3 linked regions of the Homo sapiens genome follow. The protein of the gene in region 1 interacts with the protein of each later gene in a biochemical or structural test. Each region holds a gene or a part of one and is shown in the gene's direction. Other genes may lie near its edges.

Region 1 (7,023 bases):
ATAATAAAAGTTGGTGATTTGAGTTGTTTCCCATGTGCTAGATTGCATTCACAGAGTGGATTGAACCACCTAAACGAGAAAGAAAAGCCAACTATGCCGTTGATGCATATTTCAGGGAAGCTCTTCGTGTTAGTGAACCTAAAGCACCCAAGGTGAGTTGACTGACACAGCATAAAAATATCTAAAAATTTTGAAAATGTAATTTTTTTCATATATTCTTGCAAAAAGATTGATAATTAGATTTTGTGTTTCTTTTTTTTTTTTTTTTTTGAGACAGAGTCTCACTCTGTTACCAGGAGTTCAGTGGTGCGATCTCAGCTCACTGCAACCTCCGCCTCCCGGGTTCAAGCAATTCTCCTGCCTCACCCTTCCGAGTAGCTGGGACTACAGGCACCCACCACCACCCCTGGCTAATTTTTGTAATTTTAGTAGTGATGGGGTTTCACCATGTTGGCCAGGATGGTCTTGATCTCTTGACCTCATGATCCGCCCACCTTGGTCTCCCAAAGTATTGGGATTACAGGCGTGAGCCACTGCCTCTTTCCTACATTTTGCATTTCTTTAGAGTGTACTCTCTTCTGTTTTTAGTTAACATTTTTCAAAAATTAATTTTGAATCTGTGCATTTAAAATTAAGATATAAATTCAGTTTTATTGAAAGATGCATTCAGTTGCTTGCAGAATTGGCTGTTGTGGTTTATGAAGTGAGGACTAAGGATACATTTAAAATGAAATTTCTTTTTTATGGATAACACTTATTTTTGTTTTTCTTTAGGCTCCTCGACCTCCAAAACAACCCAATGTTCAGGATTTCCAGTTCTTTCCTCCACGTTTATTTGAATTACTGGAAAAAGAAATTCTGTTTTACAGAAAAACTATTGGGTACAAGGTAATTGAAATTATCTGCCTTTCTGTTCATTCCTATCCAGAAATTATGGAAGGTATAAACATTAGTTATAAATATTTATCTAATTTGGACCTAGTGTGAAACAATACTGCTTTAGCCTAGTCTAGTTGTATGTATGAAATACATAAACTTGGGTCTGTTTTTCTTTAACAAGAAAAAATAAGACTTCATGACCAATCTGGTTTGTTTTTAACATAATACATGCAATGTATCAGTATATTTTCTTTCCTGGTTGAATTGAAACTTGTGAAATGTCAGTTAGTTGGTTCATCACATGCTCTTTAAAATTTACTGATTTGATGGCATAGAAAAATATCTTTTAGGTACCTCGAAATCCTGAGCTGCCTAATGCAGCACAGGCACAAAAAGAAGAACAGCTTAAAATTGATGAAGCTGAATCCCTTAATGATGAAGAGTTAGAGGAAAAAGAGAAGCTTCTAACACAGGTATAGCCTTTAATCAGTACAAACTTTAGTAACAGTTTGTTGTAAAGGACTGTGTTAGGTTATGTTGGGGCATAAAAATAAATACAAGTTTCTGCTTTTAAAGATGGAATAATTGGAGACAATAAAGTATGGGCATGTGGATAAATGCTCCATCTGATTGTCACTAGTTGAGGTAGTTGAGAAGACTACAGATTTTATTACTCTGGCTCGGTAGAGTGGGTATCTTTTTTATCACCTTACTTTGAATGTTCCCGTCTTTCCTATGAATTTTCCACATTGCTACCCAGTCACCATTTTCAACTATAAATCTTGGCTTGGTTATTTTTTAAACATCCTTTGGTGTTCATCAAGGTCTTTCAGAATCTGGCCTTTGACTTACCTTTAAAGCTTCATTTTCCTTCCATTTTTCTACTTGCTCATATTTTTGCCCTTTATGTTATTCACTCTTTCTGGCCAACTGCTAGTAATCCTTCAAAGCTCAGTGAAACTGTCACCTTTTCATACAGTATTCCTTACTCTCAGCCACTCATATTTAATTGCTTGGGTATTTGAGCAATATATAATGTGTTGTCAAAAGTGTATATTTATGTACACGAAAAGTTACCACTCTAAAAGAACTTAATAAACTAGTGAAAATTTGTTTTTGTAATATTTAGAAGGTTTGCTAATAGCATGTTTTCCAAGTTTAATGTGCTGTGATTAAATATTTTGTTTCTGTTCCTGTGAAGGGATTTACCAATTGGAATAAGAGAGATTTTAACCAGTTTATCAAAGCTAATGAGAAGTGGGGTCGTGATGATATTGAAAATATAGCAAGAGAAGTAGAAGGCAAAACTCCAGAAGAAGTCATTGAATATTCAGGTAATTCTTTTAAGCAGGCTGTTGGAGTTTAGTAAGAGCTGTTGGAAGGTTCTTGTTTTCTTATTCTGAATTATGTTGTGATTAGCTAATTTTGTCACAGTGTAGTTAGTACCTTCTTCATTATTTTTTACAAATTAGAAAATGTTCTGTTTCCAGAAATGGCGTAATGGTTTCCTTTTTAAAAATTTTTTAACCCTAGCTAACTCTAGCGACAGCAAAGAAAATCAGAATAAGTCACTGGATAATTGCCCTTGCATTTTTATCTTAATTTCTCTGCATAACTTCAAGTATTATGTGTTGTGTTTCCTGAAGTCAGTTGTATTATTAGGTTAACATGTGAGGGTATGCTGTGGTGAGTCTGCTTAGAATAGCAGAAATTTAAGAATTAGAAGATAAATAATCCAGTTGATCCCATTTTTTTTACATTAAAGAAATAAAAATATAAATGATTTGTTTACTTTGTCCAACTTTTACAGCTGTGTTTTGGGAAAGGTGCAACGAGCTCCAGGACATAGAGAAGATTATGGCTCAGATTGAAAGGGGAGAGGCGAGAATTCAAAGAAGAATAAGCATCAAGAAAGCACTTGACACAAAGGTAATTTGCTTGTTAATAAGTTAGGTAGTTAATAAAATAACTCCTAGCTGTGAGTATGAGAGAGTGACTTTTTATAAAGGAAAAGAAGTAAGGGTTTACAATTTAAAATTTCTTCAGAGTAGCATTCAAACATGGTATTGTCAGCAGAATTTACCTATACACTAGACTGATAGATCTGAGTCAAAGACACTAAGATTAGCTTTTTACTAAGTAGAATCAGGAAGTCTTAGTCTGTATTTCTCTTTATAATAATAAAGACTATAAAGGTCTTTCGGGACAAAGATTATATAAAGCAATTGAAGTGCTCTAGATAGAAAATTCTGATTTGAAATGCAACATTTTAGCTAATTATACTAAAGCTGAGTTTGAAATACAGATTATATAGGATTTGTATTTTATATAATATAAAATCTGACTTTCATAGATTGGACGGTACAAAGCACCTTTTCATCAGCTGAGAATATCATATGGTACTAACAAAGGAAAAAACTATACTGAAGAAGAAGATCGTTTTCTGATTTGTATGCTTCACAAACTTGGATTTGACAAAGAAAATGTTTATGATGAATTGCGACAGTGTATTCGCAACTCTCCTCAGTTCAGATTTGACTGGTTTCTTAAGTCCAGAACTGCAATGGTGAGTGCTCAGGGCTTTTTTGTGTAATGTAGCAGAGTTCAGAGTAAGTGTCATCTTTGGTATTCTTTAAGGTGACTTTAAAAAAATCTATGAAGTAGACTTTTGTTACAATATTGTTAGTATCATAAAACCTAATACCAGGGATAGCTTACAAGTTTATTGGTCCTATCCTTTAGTATCTTACGTCTTTAAATATCACTATATGATAAGACTAGCTTTTCAAGTTCTAAGTGGGAGGAAGTATCAGTTTCAACTTCTGAGTGTTACGACTTTTTGGTTTTTCAAATGAACATATTTCTATAAAGAAAAATGGTCCTTGCATTCAAGCATCTGCACATCAGAATCAGCATTCTGATTTATTTAATATAAATCATCCAGAGTCTGGATTATTTTAAGATGGCTTATTATAGTGAAACACTACTTTTGCACTGATTTAGTGCTAGGTTTTGTTTTTATTCCCAATATCTGACTAACAGTTTCTGACCAAATAGCCCCATTTCTAATAACCTAAAATTTGAATTCAGAAAAGTTTAACTTTGATGGATTGCTCCTTTTCTTCCTTATTTCACCACCATTGAACTTTGAGCTTCAACTTGTTTTCTGCCAGATGAGGATAATGCTAATAAGTTCTTTAGTCTTAAGTTTGGGATATTCTGGGATAAGCAAAGTTTAAACATCTTTGTGTTTGTTTATAGTAAGATTTCTCTGTATATTTAAAGTAAAATGTCACTTTGTAAGACAGTGGATAGTAAGCAGTATTTTCATGTTTGACCACTGAAAATTTTTTTTCACTAGACATCACTGTTTGTGATACCCAAGTTTGGGAAATGTACTAAACTTAAATACATGAAGATACTTTGAAGATAAAACACTGTATAAATATATAATTAGAGAAAAGATCCAGTTGCTGAAAGCTTATTTCTTCTTAAGTGGGAACAATTTATAGAGTTAATAAAGAATAATTTTATAGTGATTGTAACAAGACAGTGCCATGTTAATTTAACTAGTACAGTACCGTAATTTAAAACTGTGTTACTTCTTAACATGTTCCATGTTAAGATGCACAAAAAATGATAATGTATTCTTCTATCTCTATATACTATTTCTAAGTCTTGTGTGGTGTATTCTATACAGTAGTATTTTAAAATTATTTTACTGTAGTTGTGTGTGTAGTAGTATCACTTACTATAAGAAAAAAATAATTTTGCTCTATAAGAAAGGGGGCTGCTACCCAGCAGCCGTCCGTGCAGATGGACTTCTGTTTCTTTCAGGGTTAACTGCTACTTCTATGTTATACTTTAAATCTTTTCTGGAGGCTGTATGTCCAGTTTGCCAGAGAGAGATGAGGTAGAACTCATCGTAGACTTCCATGGCTGGTTTTCCAAAATTGGGAAAGGTGCCATGTGATTGATTGACTACCATAATTCTAGTGATACTTTGAAGGGAAAGATTATACACACCTGTTAAAGTTCTTGTTGTTTTTGACCCTCACATATGTGCACTATTAATCTTTTTAAGTTTTGGATATAAGTAGCACAGTAGTTCTCAGACATACACACTAAGTAGCAGTATTGCATATGTTCATTTTTATTGCTTTAATTCCTAAGTGAAGGAAGAATTTTTGAAGAATACACAGTAGTTTGGCTTTAAAGATTGGAGTAAAAACATTATTTACAAATATCTTGCCTTTAATCTTCATAGCATGAATTGTATATGAAAATCAGTTGTTTTTTTTTTAAATCAGGGGTGTATTAGTGGTTTTATATATTATCCTATTAAAACATACCTTGTTTTAAAATTGAAATCATGAAACTTGTGGATGGAAAGTGCGTGTACCATGTTTGTTTATAATTTAGGAGCTCCAGAGGAGATGTAATACCTTAATTACTTTGATTGAAAGAGAAAACATGGAACTAGAAGAAAAGGAGAAGGCAGAGAAAAAGAAACGAGGACCAAAGCCTTCAGTAAGTATTCATGAATATGTAAATATGTGGATTATGTAAATTTCCCCTTTCTAAGTATTTAACACTGCTTGGCTGTCATTGATGTGTTAGTCCCTGTTGTGCACCCCTCCATTGCCTTTACTTTTTTTTTTTTTTTTTTTTCCTTAAGGGAGAACCCAAGCTCATAATTTGAGATTCTTCCACTTTCAAATTTAGGTAGTGGTATAATTTTTAATTTTTAGTTGTTATGAGTAAGTATGTATTTATAGGTTACATGAGATACTTTGATACAGGCATGCAATAAGTAATAAGGACATCAGGGTAAATGGGGTATTTATCACCTCCAGCATTTATCCCTGTTACAAACAGTTTAACTCTTAGTTATTTTAAAATGTATAATTAAATTATTTATTGCGGTAGTCACTGTGTTGGGCTATCAAATACTGGGTCTTAGTCTCTCTTTGTATTTATTTGTATCCATTAGCCAGCCCCACTTTCCCCCACCCCCACTGCCTTTCTCAGCCTCTGGTATCCATCCTTCTCTCTGTCTCCATGAGTTTAATTGTAGTTTTTAGCTCCCACAAATAAGTGAGAACATGCCAAGTTTGTCTTTCTGTGTCTGGCTTATTTCACTTAATAAACTCCAGTTCCATCCATGTTGCTGCAAATTACAGGGTCTCATTGCTTATGGTTGAATAGTATTCTATTGTGTATACATACCATGTTTTCTTTATCCATTTATCTGTTGATGGACACTTAGGTTGCTTCCAAATCATGGCTACTGTGAATAGTGCTGCAGTAAACATGGGAGTGCACATATCTCTTTGATATACTGACTTTCTTTTGGGTGTAAACCTAGGAGTAGGGTAACTCTTATCTGTAGTTTTTTGAGGAACCTTCAAACTGCTTCCACAGTGATTGTACTAATTTGCGTTCCCACCAAAAGTGTATGAGGGTTTCCTTTTCTCCACATTCTTGTCAGGATTTGTTATTGCCTGACTTTTGGATAAAAGCCATTTTATCTGGGATGAGATGTTATCTCATTGTAGTTTTGATTGCATTTCTCTGATGATCAGTGATACTGAACAGCTTTTAATATGCTTGTTTGCCATTTGTATGTCTTCCTTTGAGAATCATCTGTTCAGATCTTTTGCCTATTTTTAAATCGGACTGTTAGGATTTTTTTCAGTAGAGTTGTTTGAGCTCTTACATATTCTGGTTATTTATTAATCCTTTGACAAATGGGTAGTTTGCAAATATTTTCTTCCATTCTGTGGGATGTCTCTTCACTTTGCTGTTTCCTCTGCTGTGCAGAAGCTTTTTAACTTAATGTGATCCCATTTGTCCATTTTTGCTTTGGTTGCCTGTGGGGTATTATTCAAGAAATCTTTGCCCAGTCCAGTGTTCTGGAGAGTTTTCCCAATGTTTTCTTGTAGTTTCACAGTTTGAGGACTTAAAGTCTTTAATACATTTTGATTTGATTTTTTTATATAGTTAGGGATACAGGTCAAGTTTCATTCTTCTGTGTATGGATATCCAATTTTCCCATTACCATTTATTGAAGAGACTGTCCTTTCTCCAGTGTATGTTCTTGGTAGCTTTGTCAAAAATGAGTTCCATGTAGATGTATGGACT
Region 2 (7,919 bases), on another chromosome or scaffold:
TCGGCTCAATGCCACCTAAACCTCCCGGGTTCAAGTGATTCTCCTGCTTCAGCCTCCCGAGTAGCTGGGATTACAGGCGTATGCCACCATACCTGGCTTTTTTTGTATTTTTAGTAGAGATGGGATTTCACCATCATGGCCAGTCTGCTCTCGAACCCCTGACCTCAAATTATCCACCTGCCTCGGCCTCTCAAAGTGCCAGAATTACAAGCGTGTGTCACCACGATTGGCCCTAAAGCAAAAAATTTTTTTTGAGATGGAGTATCCCTCTGTTGCCCAGGCTGGAGTGCAATAGCGTGATCTCGGCTCATCTCAACCTCTGCCTCCTGGATTCAAGCGATTCTCCTGCCTCAGCCTCCCAAATAGCTGGGATTACAGGCTTGTGCCACCACGCCCAGCTAATTTTTATATTTTTAGTAGAGACGGGGTTTCACCATATTGGCTAGGCCGATCTCAAATTCCTGCTCTCATGATCTGCCCACCTTGGCCTCCCAACGTGCTGGGATTATAGGTGTGAGCCACCGCGCCCTGCCTAAAGCAAAATTTTTAAAGGAAAGACTGAGGCTACATCTCTGCTATCTGCCAACCAGATACAGGGATTATGCAAATTTCTTCAAGGAACACAAATCAAGTGGAGGGAGTAGCTGGGATTACATGTTGGCCAGGCTGGTCTCAAACTCCTGACCTCAAGTGATCCGCCTGCCTCAGACTCCCAAAGTGTTGGGATTACAGGCGTGAGCCACGGCGCATGGTCAAGAATTGTTTTCAAGGACATTGTTAGAGCTGGAGGCGCATGACTGAGAAGGAGGCACGTCACTGAGAAGGGCGAGGTGCTATGGAGCAAAAGGGAGGAGACGCTACCTCGAGATCAGGAAGCTGGGACTGCCCCTGGCCTGGAGCCCAGGAGCCCACACTCGCCCCCGAAGGACTCCAGGGCTGCCACTGTTGAGCAGAAACTTAGAGTGAAGCCGCTCAAAGCTCCACATGTGCAGGTGGTGATCCCTATAACCCCACTGCAGTCCTCTACCCTGCAGCCAGCAGGCAGATAAAGCTTCTTCCTCCCACCCCACAGCGATCTTTCACAGGGGCCTCCAATTTGCAGAACCTACCCAGAAGCCAGCTGACAGGGCATTCTGGGAAGTGCAGAAAACTGCCTTGCACCACCCTGGGATACCCATGAGAATGGTGCAAGGTACTGTCGTGAAGACAAAGTGAGCCCCTAAAAAACAGAGCTAACGACAGGATGAGACTAACTCACTGAGCTTTTTCCAGAGCCAGGAAGTTCTCAAGGACAACAGTCTTGAATTCTGCCGTCTTAGGTTTAAAGCTTCTTTTTTTTACATTTTTTTTCTCTTTGTAGAGATGTGGGTCTTGTTATATTGCCCAGGCTGGTCTCAAACTCCTGGCTTCACGTATTTCTCCTGCCTCAGCCTCCAAGTGATGGGATTACAGCTGTGAACCACACTGGATTTTTTTTTTTTTTTTTTTTAATGGTGAGCACTTCTTTTCCAGTATGAAGATTTCCTGCTTGGCTTCTCTCTCTACTTCTCAAATGATTAATGACTGCAAACATCACCTGCCAATTCTACAAGCTGAGCTTCTCATCCCTATTCTCTCTCCTTTCCCTCCCTCCCTTCCTTCTTTCCTTCCTTCCTCTTCTGTGCTCTTCCCTAATGTTAACCCATCCTGTTCTCACACATACTCAAAAGAGAAAGACAAGCCATACAAAAATAATAGCCAGCTAGGGAAACAAAACATCTAACAGCTTCAAAATATGTCATCACTATGGCTTGTTTCCTGTGTGGACCAAAGGACCCTCTTGTGTAGCTGCTCTTGTGTAGCAGTTCCCTGCCCCTCTTTTGTGAATGTCAACGGCTTTCCCATTTACAGAGGCAAGGCCGAGAGGGAGAGGGAGTCTGCAGCTCCACCTCCAGCCTGTGCAAACTGCCAGGAGTCGGCTCTGCATAAGGCACAGTGCCATTTGGTCATCACTCAAGAACCAGTGTGAGCTTTTAAAGTGGATCTGCTCCCTTCAAAACTTTTTTTTTTTGAGAGTCTTGCTCTGTTGCCCAGGCTGGAGTGCAGTGGTGTGATCTGTGCTCACTGCAACCTCCACCTTCTGAGTTCAAGTGATTCTCCTGCCTCAGCCGCCAATGCAGCTGAGATTACAGGTGCTTACCACCATGCCCAGCCAATTTTTCTATTTTTAGTAGAGAGGGGGTTTTGCCATGTTAGCCAGGCTGGTCTGGATTTGTTTGTTTTTGAGATGGAGTTTCTCTCTTGTTGCCCAGGCTGGAGTGCAAGTGGCGTGATCTTGGCTCACTGCAACCTCCGCCTCCCGGGTTCAAGCGATTCTCCTGCCTCAGCCTCCTAAGTAGCTGGGATTACAGGCGCGTGCCACCATGCCCGGCTAATTTTTTGTATTTTTAGTAGAGACGGGGTTTCGCCATGTTGGTCAGGCTGGTCTCGAACTCCTGACCTCAGGAGATCTGCCCCCCCTCGGCCTCCCAAAGTGCTGGGATTACAGGTGTGAGCCACCGCGCCCGGCCAAAAATAAAATTTTTGTAGAGATGCTGCCCTGTTATGCTGCCCGGGCTAATCTCAAACTCCTGGGCTCAAGCGATCTGCCTGCTTCAGCCTCCCAAAGTGCTGGGATTACAGGCATGCACCACCTCGAGTTCAAAATTCTTCATTATTTTCCATTACTCTTGGAATGAAAGTCAAACTTTTTACCCAGGGCCAGAGCCGGTCCCACCTACCTTGGTAACCACACCTCCCGTGCTCTCTGCCTCCCTCACTAAGCTCCAGACACACTGGCTTTTCAGTTCCTCAAACTGCCCAGGCATTTTCCTCGTCAGGTGTTCTCCCTAGAGCCTGACTTGTCCCGAAAGCTCATCTTGTCTCAGTCTTTCTGTATGAGTGGCTCCTTTTCTTTCTTCAGATCTGGGCACAAATGTCACTTCCCAGAGGGGCTGCCCTATCACTCGCACATGGTTTTGTTTCCTTCGTAGCTTTCAGCATTGGAGGTGTATTTTTTTTTTTTTTTTTTTTTTGAGATGGAGTCTCCCTCTGTCGCCCAGGCTGCTGGAGTGCAGTGGCGCGATCCCGGATCACTGTAACCTCTGCCTCCTGGGTTCCAGCGATTCTCCTGCCTCAGCCTCCCGAGTAGCTGGCATTACAGGTGCCCACCACCACGCCCAGCTAATTTTAATAATTTCAGTAGAGATGGGGTTTGACTATATTGGTTGGGCTGGTCTCGAACTCTTGACCTCAGGTGATCCACCCACCTTGGCCTCCCAAAGTGCTGGGATTACAGGCGTGAGCCAAAGCGCCCGGCTGGAGGTATTCTTACTTATTTTTCAGTCTCCCTCAGACCTGAAGGTCAGCTCTAAGAGGGCAGGGACCATGGCAGCCCTGCTCACTGGCTGTACCCTTGTGCCTAGCAATGCCTGACATGTATTTCTGTGCTCAATTATTTGCGCCAGGACCTCACGTCACAGTGGTGAAGAAGACACTACACTTAACACGCTCCAATTCAAACCTCTGCCAAAATGTGCTCCCTGTCTCAGTAAAGGGCTCTTTACCAAGGCCTTTCTGATATCTCAGTAAGCTGTGCTGATACTCCACAGCAGCTCCCTCTTGAAATCAGACCCCAAACCCTACCACTTCCCATGATCCTGGCAGAAGTTAAGTTGGTGGCCAGGCGCGGTGGCTTACGCCTGTAATCGCAGCACTCTGGTAGGCCGAGGCGGGCGGATCACGAGGTCAGGAGATCGAGACCATCCTGGCCAACATGGTGAAAACCCGTCTCTACTAAAAATACAAAAAATTAGCTGGGTGGCGCGTGCCTATAATCCCAGCTACTCAGGAGGCTGAGGCAGGAGAATTGCTTGAATCGGGGTGTTGGAGGTTGCAGTGAGCCGAGATCGCACTGCACTCCAGCCTGGCGACAGAGCGAGACTCTGTGTCAAAAAAAAAAAAAAAAAAAAAAGTTAAGTTGGACCCCTTACTCTTCCAAGGGCCTCCCCACTCATTCAGAGCGAATTCTGCGGTCTCCGCGGCCTTCCCTGGTCTGGCCCCTGACCATCTCCTGCCTCTCTCCTCCCAGCTGCTGTCCCCTTGGTACTGCCGGCCTCCTGAGGGCCACGTTCCTGGGTTCTCGTAATCATCTTCTACCTGGTCTCTGTGATTCCGGCCTTACGCGCACCCACGCCCTCCCAGCCGGCAGCTGCAGGGATCCTTTTAAAACTGCCCGGGACTCCACTGCTCAAACCCTACCACCACTTCCCATTTTCCTTAGAAAAAAAAATCCAACAGGACCTAGCCCCGGGCTGCCTGTCAGACCTCGGCGAGCACGCCAGGCTCTGCACACCGTCTCTCGGAGCAGTCCCGAAGAGGCCGTTCCCACCAGACTCCGGGACCTCCTCAGGGCAGCTCTTCGTCCTCCACCCCGCAGGAAGGCTCTTCTCCCAATCACCCCGCGGCGCAGCAAGCCTGGCCCCGCCGCATCGCCCGCGCTGGACTCTGCTCTTCCACCGGTCGCCTGGCTACCGGCGCAGGACGCATCCGCTGTCCGCTTGGTCGTCCCCCCTGGACTTTGTGCTTCAAGAAAGCGTCACTTTTTGCCGACGGCGGCACGCCCGGTCCTAGTACAGCGCAGGCGCTTAACACACAGCACCCAGCCACGAGGCCCGGAGTCAGAGGGCTTTGCTTGCCCATTCACAGAGCCCTCACCCGCGGATCAAAGTCGTATTCCGCGACCGCAGCCCGGAGACTCCCGGGAGCGGCGCGGTGCGCCCCGCCCCCGCCAGGCTCTCGGCTGCCGGTTCCGCGCCGGGCCTCGCACTCGGGGGCGGTGTCCGAGCGTCGGCGCATGCGCAGATCGGGGGCGCGAGGCCTCACGGAGCTCGTAGTTTCCCGGACGGGCCGCTCCCGGCCTCGCGGCCTCGCCTCCCCACACTACAACTCCCACGGGGCAGCGGGCGCGGCTCCCCGTACCCACCAGCTGGCCGGGCAGGGCAGCCACTTCGCGGTCGGGCCCGCCGGCTGCGGGCACCCGCGCGACGGGCGGGAAGATGGCGGACGTGGTCGTGGGTAAAGACAAGGGCGGGGAGCAGCGGCTCATCTCGCTGCCTCTATCCCGCATCCGGGTCATCATGAAGAGCTCCCCCGAGGTGTCCAGCATCAACCAGGAGGCGTTGGTGCTCACGGCCAAGGCCACGGTGAGGGGGCAGGGCGGGGGTGTGGGCCGCCCTTACCCCTCGCGCCCCGCCCCGCCGGGCTCTGGGCACTGCCCAGTCCCCTTAGGCCCGCGCGCCGCCGGCTGCTCTTGCCGGGCTCGCGCGCGCCCCGCTGTCCCCGTCCCACGCCGGCGCGCGCTTCGGTGCCCGCGCGCCCCCACACTTTCTCGCGCGTCTTCGCCCCGCCCACCCCTCGCCGCTCCCTCACGTTCTCCAGTTTCTTCGCCTCGCCTACCGCGCGCCTCTCCCGCCCTTTGTCGCCTTCCTTCGCTCCGCCCGCCCCTTCCTTCCGTGCGCACCTTCGCCCCGCCCACCCCACTGTCCTCCCGCCGTTTCTCTCGCGCTTCCATTCGGCAAACCCGTAAGCTCCCGCGTTCCTCTGCGCGCCTTTCGTCCCTCCCACCTGTGCGCTCACGTCCTCCCTCGCGTGCGGCGCTCAGTTTCCGGCCCTACCCGTGGGCGTCGGCGCCTAGTGGCGCTCTTCTCATTTGGGTTCTTTGGGGGCTCTTTCACCCGCGACTCCCTACTCCCGGCCTGCCTTTTTCTTGTCACTGGACTGCTTCGTGCTTTGAGGGCCCTAACTCCTCCAGTGTCCCGTGGGAGGGGCAGCCGGGCGCTTCACCCGCGACTCGAGGCTCTTTTCCCGCGCGTGCGGTGCCAGCTCCAGCGGTCCGAGGCTTTCGAGCCCTCCCGCCCGCCACAGCTGGGGCCCCTCGTCTAAGAGGCAGCACATTCCCCAACCAGAATTTAAGGAAGTCCGGGGAACTTAAGTTTTACAGCCTGCTTAGCATCCTCCTGGGTGCAAAATAGATAATTTTGTCTTTTTTTAAAAAAATTGCGTCTCGATAGTGTTAGGCCAGATGTTTTCCTGTTCTGACACTGGGCCATGTTTCAGCTACACAGTTAAATGCTTTAGCTTGTCTTGGATTCTATTTTCCAGTCCCTACTTGTAGTTAAGTATATGATGTCCCTGCAGTGTTGGACTAGAACTAAGGGAAGTGGGAAATTACAGGTTTCTTGCCCGCTTTATGTCAGAGCCATGTTTTCCTAGAGCCCAGGGAAATAATTGCATATTCAGCATTTCATCTGGGGACATTTGTATTTTCCTATACAATTTCATTCTATTGGTATTAAGGAATGAGGATTTATGCAGGCACTTCTGACCCGTTATTTTATTTTTTGAGATGGAGTTTCCCAGGCTGGAGTGCGGTGGCACTGTCTTGCTCACTGCAACCTCTGCCTCGCGGGTTCAGATGATTCTCCTGCCTCAGCCTCCTGAGTAGCTGGGATTACAGGTGCCTGCCATCACACTCGGCTAATTTTTGTATTTTTTGGTAGAGACAGGGTTTCACCATGTTGCCCAAGTTGGTCTTGAACTCCTGACCTCAGGTGATCCGTCTGCCTCAGCCTCCCAAAGTGCTGGGATTACAGGCGTGAACCATCACGCCCGTCTTTCTCATCCCTTATTAACTGAACTAGATGCATTAAAGTCAAAACCTTGAGAAAGAGGCTCAGTTCAGCCTCTGTAAAAATGAAGACTTGGCCCTGCTATAAGAACTGGGATGCAGGAGGGAGAAGATCAGTTCCGGTTGTTTCATTAGGTCTGAGGGTTGTATGTCAGTTCCTAGAATAGAAAAGTTTTGGCAAAATGTAAGCTGTGGTCACTATAGTTGTAGGTGAACCACCTTAGAAACAGTGTATGCAAATAGAAGACTAAAAAGGTATTCCTGAGCCAAATAGAATTTTTGAATGGCTTTTTGCTACTTTCTATTTTTTTTTCTTTTTTTTTGAGACGGAGTCTCGCTCTGTCGCCCAGGCTGGAGTGCAGTGGCGCGATCTCGGCTCACTGCAAGCTCCGCCTCCCGGGCTTACGCCATTCTCCTGCCTCAGCCTCCCGAGTAGCTGGGACTACAGCCGCCACCATGCCCGGCTAATTTTGTTTTTTTTTTTTATTTTATTTTTAGTAGAGACGGGGTTTCACCGTGTTAGCCAGGATGGTCTCGATCTCCTGACCATCCTTGGTCCGCCGTCCTTGGCCTCCCAAAGTGCTGGGATTACAGGCCTGAGCCACAGCTCCCGGCCGCTTCTTTCTTTTACTCTAGAGGTTGGTCATTAAACAGTTACGATTCATCTTTTTCGTAAGTTAGACATCTAAAATAAGCCTCTGGAAAATGCCTGCTTCTCCGCCAATTTTGATACTGGCTTTGCTTTCTTTCTGACCTCATGTTTTTCTTTTCCCCAGTGATTTCTTTTTTTTTTTTTTTTTTTTTTTTTGAGACGGAGTCTTGCTTGATCACCCAGGCCAGAGTGCTGCAATCTCCAACCTCCACCTCCCAGGTTCAGGCGATTCGCCTGCCTCAGCCTCCCGCTGGCTGGGATTACAGGCACCCGCCACCATGCCCAGCTAATTTTTGTATTTTTAATAGAGATGGGGTTTCACTATGTTGGCCAGTCTGGTCTCAAACTCCTGACCTCAAGTGAGCCGCCTGCCTCAGCCTCCCAAAGTGTTAGTATTACCAGCGTGAGCCACCACGCCTGGCCTCCCCAGTGATTTCTTGTAATTTAATTTGAGAAACCAAGAGAATCTGAAGTCTTAATATACTTTTAAGCCTAATTAAGGAATCAACAATGTAATTTTAAAAATTAATTTCTGTGGTACATTTTCAAAGCACACCTTTC
Region 3 (7,023 bases), on another chromosome or scaffold:
GCCTGGCTAATTTTTGTATTTTTAGTAGAGAAGGGGTTTCACCATGTTGGTCAGGCTGGTCTCGAACTCGAATTGAGCCTCCCAAAGTGCTGGGGTTACAGGCATAAGCCACAGGGCCAAGCCTTGAAAGATAACATTTTCAGATTATTTGGACTATTCTGAAAACTACGTAAGCCTGTCATTTAAATCATCTTTTCACTATTTATTTTCCAGGCAAAAACCCCTCCCACCTAGATGAAGATCCCTAGATTAAAGATCCAGTATGGGAGCAGATAGACACTTATGATTGTGTGAAAGTGGCATCATCACTAGTAAGATAGCAGCATCATTGCTCTTCTCACTGGGGCTGTTGGGGTTTTTGATATTCTGGAAACAGTAAAAACAAGTCCATCTGATGTCAGCATCCTTTTTCTTGCCCCTGATTAGTTCCTTTAAGTTGCTGTCTGATGGGGTTGATTTGATGCTGATTTTAAGTTCCCCTTTCTTCAGCCTTTGCTTACCTGAATTGGCACTTGACAGAACAGCAAGTTGATTTTCCCTGTTGGGGGTTAAAAGAGTAAAGAAAGGAGAGATAACTACTCTTGAGTCTTTGGACTTTTAAAAGAAAAGCTGATTTTGAGAAAATAGTGATTTCATTTGATACATGATTGAATTGGGAGCTGAATGAAGCAAACCTTTCATGGCCTTCTTATAAAATGGGTGCATTTTTCTGTCAGAGAAATATATTTCTTAATATTTCAAGCTTCTCGATGAAAGAAAAAATCTGAGGTGTAAAGAGAGCTGTATGGGCTGACCCCAGAGCCAGTCTAGAATGAAGGGTTCATCTTGTAGTCTTGCGGCTCTGGAATCAAGTATTACTGGGAGAGAAGCAAAGCTTGTTAGGGTTACTGACAGTGTCTTCCTGCTGTTGACCTTTCTTGTCACCACTGAAGAGGTCAAGCACCAAACTGCTATTTTTACTGCTGAAACAGTATAGAAGTTAGTCATTGATAATGATGTTTGACCTTGTGTAAGATGTATCAAGAGCAGCAATAATGCCAAGTATAAAATTTGAGATAATTCCTGGGGTAAATAACCTTCTTGGTTTGTTTCTTAGGATGTTGGTGTCCTCATATGCCTTATATATAGCCCAAGATGAATAGTTTCTCAGTATTATCTCATGTGGGTCAGTAGGACTATTTTTCACCAGCTTGTTATTATCAGTCTGCCTAATTTGGAAATTTAAAAAATTGTGCAAAACAAAAAAGCCCATCTTTGAAGATATCTGATACTTTGAAGATACTGTCACTAGCAGTAAAAGTAGCATTGGCTTAGTGTTTTGTCTTTTCTCCTCTTTAAAGAGAACAGTTATTATGGGGGCATTTTGCAGACTAAAATACTGTAATCTTGCCAAAAATTTACCAAAGAAAGGAAGAAGTTTTTTGTTGTTGTTTTTTTTTTTTTTTTTTTTTTGAGACGGAGTTTCGCTGTGTCGCCCAGGCTGGAGTGCAGTGGCGCGATCTCGACTCACTGCAAGCTCCGCCTCCCGGGTTCACGCCATTCTCCTGCCTCAGCCTCCCGTGTAGCTGGGACTACAGGCGCGCGCCACCATGCCCGGCTAATTTTTGTATTTTTAGTAGAGACGGGGTTTCACCGTGTTAGCCAGGATGGTCTCGATCTCCTGACCTCATGATCCGCCCGTCTCGGCCTCCCAAAGTGCTGGGATTACAGGCGTGAGCCAAGAAGTTTTTAAAAGATAGATGGTCTTCCTACTTTTAGTCTTTTGAGGTTGGACTCTGTAACCTGCCTCATGAATGGGGTCCTTAACCTGCCTGCTTAGCTCATATTTGGGGGTGGAAAGGGTGGAGTCCTTAACTGTTAGAGTTTAAATTCTGGCTGGGCACGGTGGCTCAGCCTGCAGTCGCAGCACTTTGGGAGGCTGAGGCGTGCGGATCACCTGAAGTCAGGAGTTCAAGACCAGCCTGACCAACATGGTGAAACCCTGTCTCTACTAAAAATATGAAAATTAGCCGGGTGTGATGGTGGGCGCCTGTAATCCCAGCTACTTGGGAGGCTGAGGCAGGAGAATTGCTTGAACCGGGGAGATGGAGGTTGCAGTGAGCAGAGATCGTGCCACTGCACCCCAGCCTGGGCAACAGAGCCACACTGTCTCAAAAAAAAAAAAAAAAAAAAAGAAATTCTAAGAAACAATCAGAGCTGAAAGAGGGAAATTACCTTAATATAACCTCTGGACTGTGGCTTTTAGTGTCCTGCAATTTCAGAGGCATTCCTGGTCTTCTGAGAGTAAAGTGACTGGAAATGTGGCAGAAAACTTAACCTGTAGTTTCTTTAATTAACAAATATATAAAAACCTATTATATGCCTCAAGTGTTCAGTTAAACCAAGTAGAATGTTTTATTAATTCAGAGCTTACGTTTATTTATTTTTTTATTTGGTTGAAAACGGTGGTGTGATCATAGCCCACTGCAGCCTCCAGGTCCTGGACTCAAATAATCCTCCCACCTCAGCCTCCGGAGAACCTGGCACTACAGGCATATGCCACCATGCCTAGCTAATTTATTGGCTTTTTACATTATCAGTACTTCCCTATTTTCAGGCCTTATTTTCTTCAAGGAATGGCTATTTAAGTACGTCAAGATTTGAGGCCTTTCTTCTCTCTTGAAATTTTTATCTCTGTGAAGAATGAAGCTGAGTTTTTTTTTTTTTTTTTTGTTCTCTGAAAATAGTAAGAGCAAAGCCCATGACCTTCATTGGATAAGTAAGCTGGTAGTGGCAGAAAAGGTAGATTTACTCATTCATTTCTTCAGTCCATGGACTCAACAAATATTTCCTTTGGTTCTTTTGTATACTTAGCACTAAATTAGGTGCTAGGGATATAATGGTGGAACTTATATCCAACTGATGCTGTGGAACCGACATAATGTAGAAGAAATAAGGACAGAGAACAGTCATCTTTGAATTCTTCTGAACAGCCTGGACGTGACAGTTTTCTTTGAGTAGCCCCCTCTTAGTATAATCTTCCTTCTTTCATTATCTTTGTTCTGCCTCACTTGGAGTCCTGACTAGGGAAGGTAGTTAAGGAGAGGATGGATATTTTGAGCCTCAGTCAGTATATGATATAGTTTGTCCGAGTCAGAGTTCAAGGGAAGCTTGTTACTAGGGCACTCAGAATGGGTTATCGTGATTGGAGAAGAGGGCATATTTATTCTGTGGCTTGGTACTTGGAATTTTTTTTTTTTTTTTAGTGTAGAGATAGGGTCTCACTGTGTTGCGCAGGCCAGTCTTGAATTCCTGGCCTCAAGTGATCCTGCTGAGGTTATAGGCATGAGCCACCTCTCCCAGCCTACATGGAACTCTTATTGGTGGAGGAACATGGCTTAGCCAGGGAGATGAGGTTTTTAGATACAAAAGCCAAAGCGTCCTCATTTGCAGTGTCAGGAACTGGGAACAGTGAAAACTTGGAACTTTCCCAAGGTGTGGGGCAGGAATGGGACAGCTTTTACATTAGAACAGGGTTTCTCAGCCTTGGCACTATTGATAACGTGGGCCAGATAATATCTTCGTTGTGGGGGGCGCTGTCCTGTTTGTTGAAGGACGCCTAGCAGCATCTTTGGCTTCTGCTTACTAGATGCCAGTAGCACATACCTTCAGAGATTACTAAATGTCCCCTACGGGGCAGAATTGCCCCTGATGAGAACCTCTGTATTAGAGTGTGGTGGGTAATCCAGAGATGTGTAGAGTTAAGAAATATCCTTCATGATGTTCACAATTACAAAGCTAAAATGTAGTGGTGTGATTTTTACTCTAGAATTTGCCTTTGCTGTTTAGTCAAGATAAACATTTGAAATCTCTCTCACCCCCCAACCCCATTTGTGAGATTTTGATGTACTACATGAGAAGAATGAACCCAAGAGCTGCAGGGACCACTGCAGTATCCAGCTGGAGGGTGTTAATGTGTCTTGTTGTCCTGGGGGGTAGCCTCAGAGGCTGGAGGGTTAGAATTGGTCAGGGAGGACACCTGTAACAGTGTTGCAATATATAATATTTATTTCAACACTTTGTGCATTGTCAGCCTTTTTCTTTTTTTTTTTTGAGATGGAGTCTCGCTCTGTCGCCCAGACTGGAGTGCAGTGACGCGATCTCGGCTCACTGCAACCTCCACCTCCCGGGTTCACGCCATTCTCCTGCCTCAGCCTCCCGAGTAGGTAGGACTACAGGTGCCCGCCACCACGCCTGGCTAATTTTTTCTATTTTTAGTAGAGACAGGGTTTCACCGTGTTAGCCAGGATGGTCTCGATCTCTTGACCTCGTGATCCGCTCACCTCGGCCTCCCAAAGTGCTGGGATTACACGAGCCACTGCTCTTGGTGTTGTCAGCCTTTTTCTATTAAACCATGTCACAGGCCCACAGAGTAGCAGCTCTTTGATTGGAACTGGGAGAAAAGCAACCTATTCGGCCCTGTGGGGAGGGCTTTATTGCTTCAAGCTTATAGGGCAATGTCCCTTACTCTTATAAATGAAACATAGGAGCTCTTAAAAGATCCATTTATGTATAGCTGGGACTGGGCTGGGTGCTTGAATGAATGTACTTCCTGGTATGAGAGTCATCTGCTACTCTAGGGGTTGGGCACTGGCTGATTTCTTTTCTCATTTGGTGAAAATCCTATTAGTTCAAAGGGAGATGCTCTCCTTTGCTTTACTGTTCTTACTAGCTCTGGATGGGAGGACAGAGTTTACCTTTAGGGTTTATTGTGAAAAGCATCTTGAGTAGGAAGGTTAAAATGAAATAAACCTAGGTTCATTGTTGAGAGGAGGTGTTCACATGTTTTTCGTATTCCCATACTGTGACATAATTAATTCCCATATTTAAGTGACATCTGAAATCAGGAGTCAAATTGTATATAAGGAAGTCTGGCTGGATCATCCCTAGTTTTAAATTATATTTATTTTATATGTAGACCGTTTAGACCTGATTATCTTTTTTTTTTGGAGATAGAGTGTTGCTCTGTCACCCAGGCTAGAGTGCAATGGTGCGATCTCAGCTCACTGCAACCTCCATCTCCTGGATTCAAGCAATTCTCCTGCCTCAGCCTCCTGAGTAGCTGGGATTACAGGTGCCCGCCACCACGCCCAGCTAATTTTTTGTAATTTTAATAGAGATGGGGTTTCGCCATGTTGGCCAGGCTGGTTTCGAACTCTTGACTTCAGGTGATCCACCCACCTTGGCCTCCCAAAGTGCTGGGATTACAGGCGTGAACCACTGCGCCTGGCCAGGCCTGATTATCTTTTTGAAAACTACACAGTCTTTTACTGTTTGTCTAATAATAGTAGCTAATGTAGTCCTGGTAAGGTGGCTCACGCCTGTAATCCCAGCACTTTGGGAGGTCAAGGTGGGAGAATTGCTTGAGGCCAGGAATTTGAGACCATCATGGGCAACATAGCGAGACCCTGTGTCTACAAAAAAATTTAAAAATTAGCCAGGTGTGGTGGTGAGCACCTGTAGTCCTAGCTACTTGGGAAGCTGAGGCAGGAGGATTACTGGAGCCCAGGAGTTCCAGGCTGCAGTGAGCTATGATCATGCCACTGCACACCACTCTGGATGACAGAGTGAGACTCTGTCTCAAGAAGAAAAAAAAAAAACTAACGTTTATGGAGTGCTTGCTGGATGACAGACACTGTGCTGGGGCTCTAATTTAGATTTTCTCATTTCATCCTCACCAGTCCTTAAAAGTGGGTACAAAAATTGTTACAGATGATGAAACTTAGGCCCAGCAAGTATAAGTAACTTGTCCAAGGTTAAACAGCTAGCTAGTAAATAGTAGAGTTGGGATTTGAACCTAGAGCCCACTACATTGTGCTGACCACATTGCATAGCACAAAGACAATTTTATGTGTCTAGGAAGCTTCTCGTAAATGAAGTGGTTGTGGTTCTGATGACAGTTCAGAAGAGACAGGTGGAGAAACTGATCTCACATACTAAATAACTTCCCATTCTTTTTAATTCTCTGATTTCTGTGAGCCATCGACATGTTGTTATTAATATTTACAAAAACAGGATATGCTGTGCTTTTCCAGAGCAGCAGAGAGGAGGTCACAACTTTGTTCTTGGATTCAAATAGAGAATGGAAAAATGAACCGTGACCCATCATTGAGGAGGATATAGTCCACTGCACATAGGATGGAAGTTGCATGTATCCTCCACACCAGGGGAGGTGTACAAAAAACTGGGGAGAGGAGAGGTGAGGATCAGATGAAATTGGCCCTCTAGGCATAGTATTTCCAGGACTTCTGAAGTGAAGAGTGTCCTCCTTGCTCTGTGGTATAAGCTTTGGAAGGAACCTAACTGGAGACTAAGGAATGAACTTTCCTTTAATTCTTGCACTTAAGAAGGATTATTAATCTCATGATGCTTATCTTTCAGACCCCCTACTGCTGAGGAGTAGCTGTTAACTATACTAGGGAAATCCTGACTGGGCGCAGTGGCTCATGGCTGTAATCCCAGCACATTGGGAGGCCGCGGTGGGTCGATCACTTGAGGTCAGGAATTCAAGACCAGCCTGGCCAACATGGTGTAACCCCGTCTCTACTAAAAAGATAAAAAATTATCTGGGCGTGTTGGCGGGTGCCTGTAATCCCAGCTGCTGGGGAGGCTGAGGCAGGAGAATCGCTTGAACCTGGGAGGTGGAGGTTGCAGTGAGCCGAGATCACACCCTTGCACCCCAGCATGGGCAACAAGAGGGAAACTCTGTCTCAAAAAAAAAAAAAGGAAATCCTGGAGGACCCTGTGTGTTTTGTTTGTTTGTTTGTTTTGTTTTGTTTTGTTTTTTTGAGACAGGGTTTCGCTCTGTCACCCAGGCTGGAATGCAGTGGCATGATCTTGGCTCACTGCAATCTCTGCTTCCCAGGCTCAAACAATCCTCCTGCCTCAGCCTCCCAAGTGGCTGGGACTGCAGCTGCTCACCATCATGCCTGGCTAACCTGGGGTCTTTTCACTATAAAGACTCCATTTTTTCACTGATGCATG

Evidence for each region. Proteins that work in one complex are often made in the same cells at the same time.
Region 2: the proteins of SMARCA5 (region 1) and CHRAC1 form a complex in vitro, tested with the Homo sapiens proteins (one study listed by BioGRID).
Region 3: the proteins of SMARCA5 (region 1) and BAZ2A form a complex in vitro, tested with the Homo sapiens proteins (one study listed by BioGRID).

Annotation. Positions count from the first base shown.
Region 1 is NC_000004.12:143,544,696-143,551,718, forward strand, and holds part of SMARCA5 (SWI/SNF-related matrix-associated actin-dependent regulator of chromatin subfamily A member 5), read left to right. Parts: intron 1-41; coding exon 42-152; intron 153-774; coding exon 775-888; intron 889-1,229; coding exon 1,230-1,352; intron 1,353-2,080; coding exon 2,081-2,213; intron 2,214-2,689; coding exon 2,690-2,808; intron 2,809-3,232; coding exon 3,233-3,445; intron 3,446-5,301; coding exon 5,302-5,409; intron 5,410-7,023. UniProt on the Homo sapiens protein: ATPase that possesses intrinsic ATP-dependent nucleosome-remodeling activity.
Region 2 is NC_000008.11:140,506,425-140,514,343, forward strand, and holds the start of CHRAC1 (chromatin accessibility complex protein 1), read left to right. Parts: upstream 1-4,897; 5' UTR 4,898-5,075; coding exon 5,076-5,222; intron 5,223-5,571; exon of another isoform or gene 5,572-5,601; intron 5,602-7,919. UniProt on the Homo sapiens protein: Forms a complex with DNA polymerase epsilon subunit POLE3 and binds naked DNA, which is then incorporated into chromatin, aided by the nucleosome remodeling activity of ISWI/SNF2H and ACF1.
Region 3 is NC_000012.12:56,620,305-56,627,327, reverse strand, and holds part of BAZ2A (bromodomain adjacent to zinc finger domain protein 2A), read left to right. Parts: intron 1-213; exon of another isoform or gene 214-311; intron 312-6,074; exon of another isoform or gene 6,075-6,177; coding exon of another isoform or gene 6,178-6,238; intron 6,239-7,023. UniProt on the Homo sapiens protein: Regulatory subunit of the ATP-dependent NoRC-1 and NoRC-5 ISWI chromatin remodeling complexes, which form ordered nucleosome arrays on chromatin and facilitate access to DNA during DNA-templated processes such as DNA replication, transcription, and repair.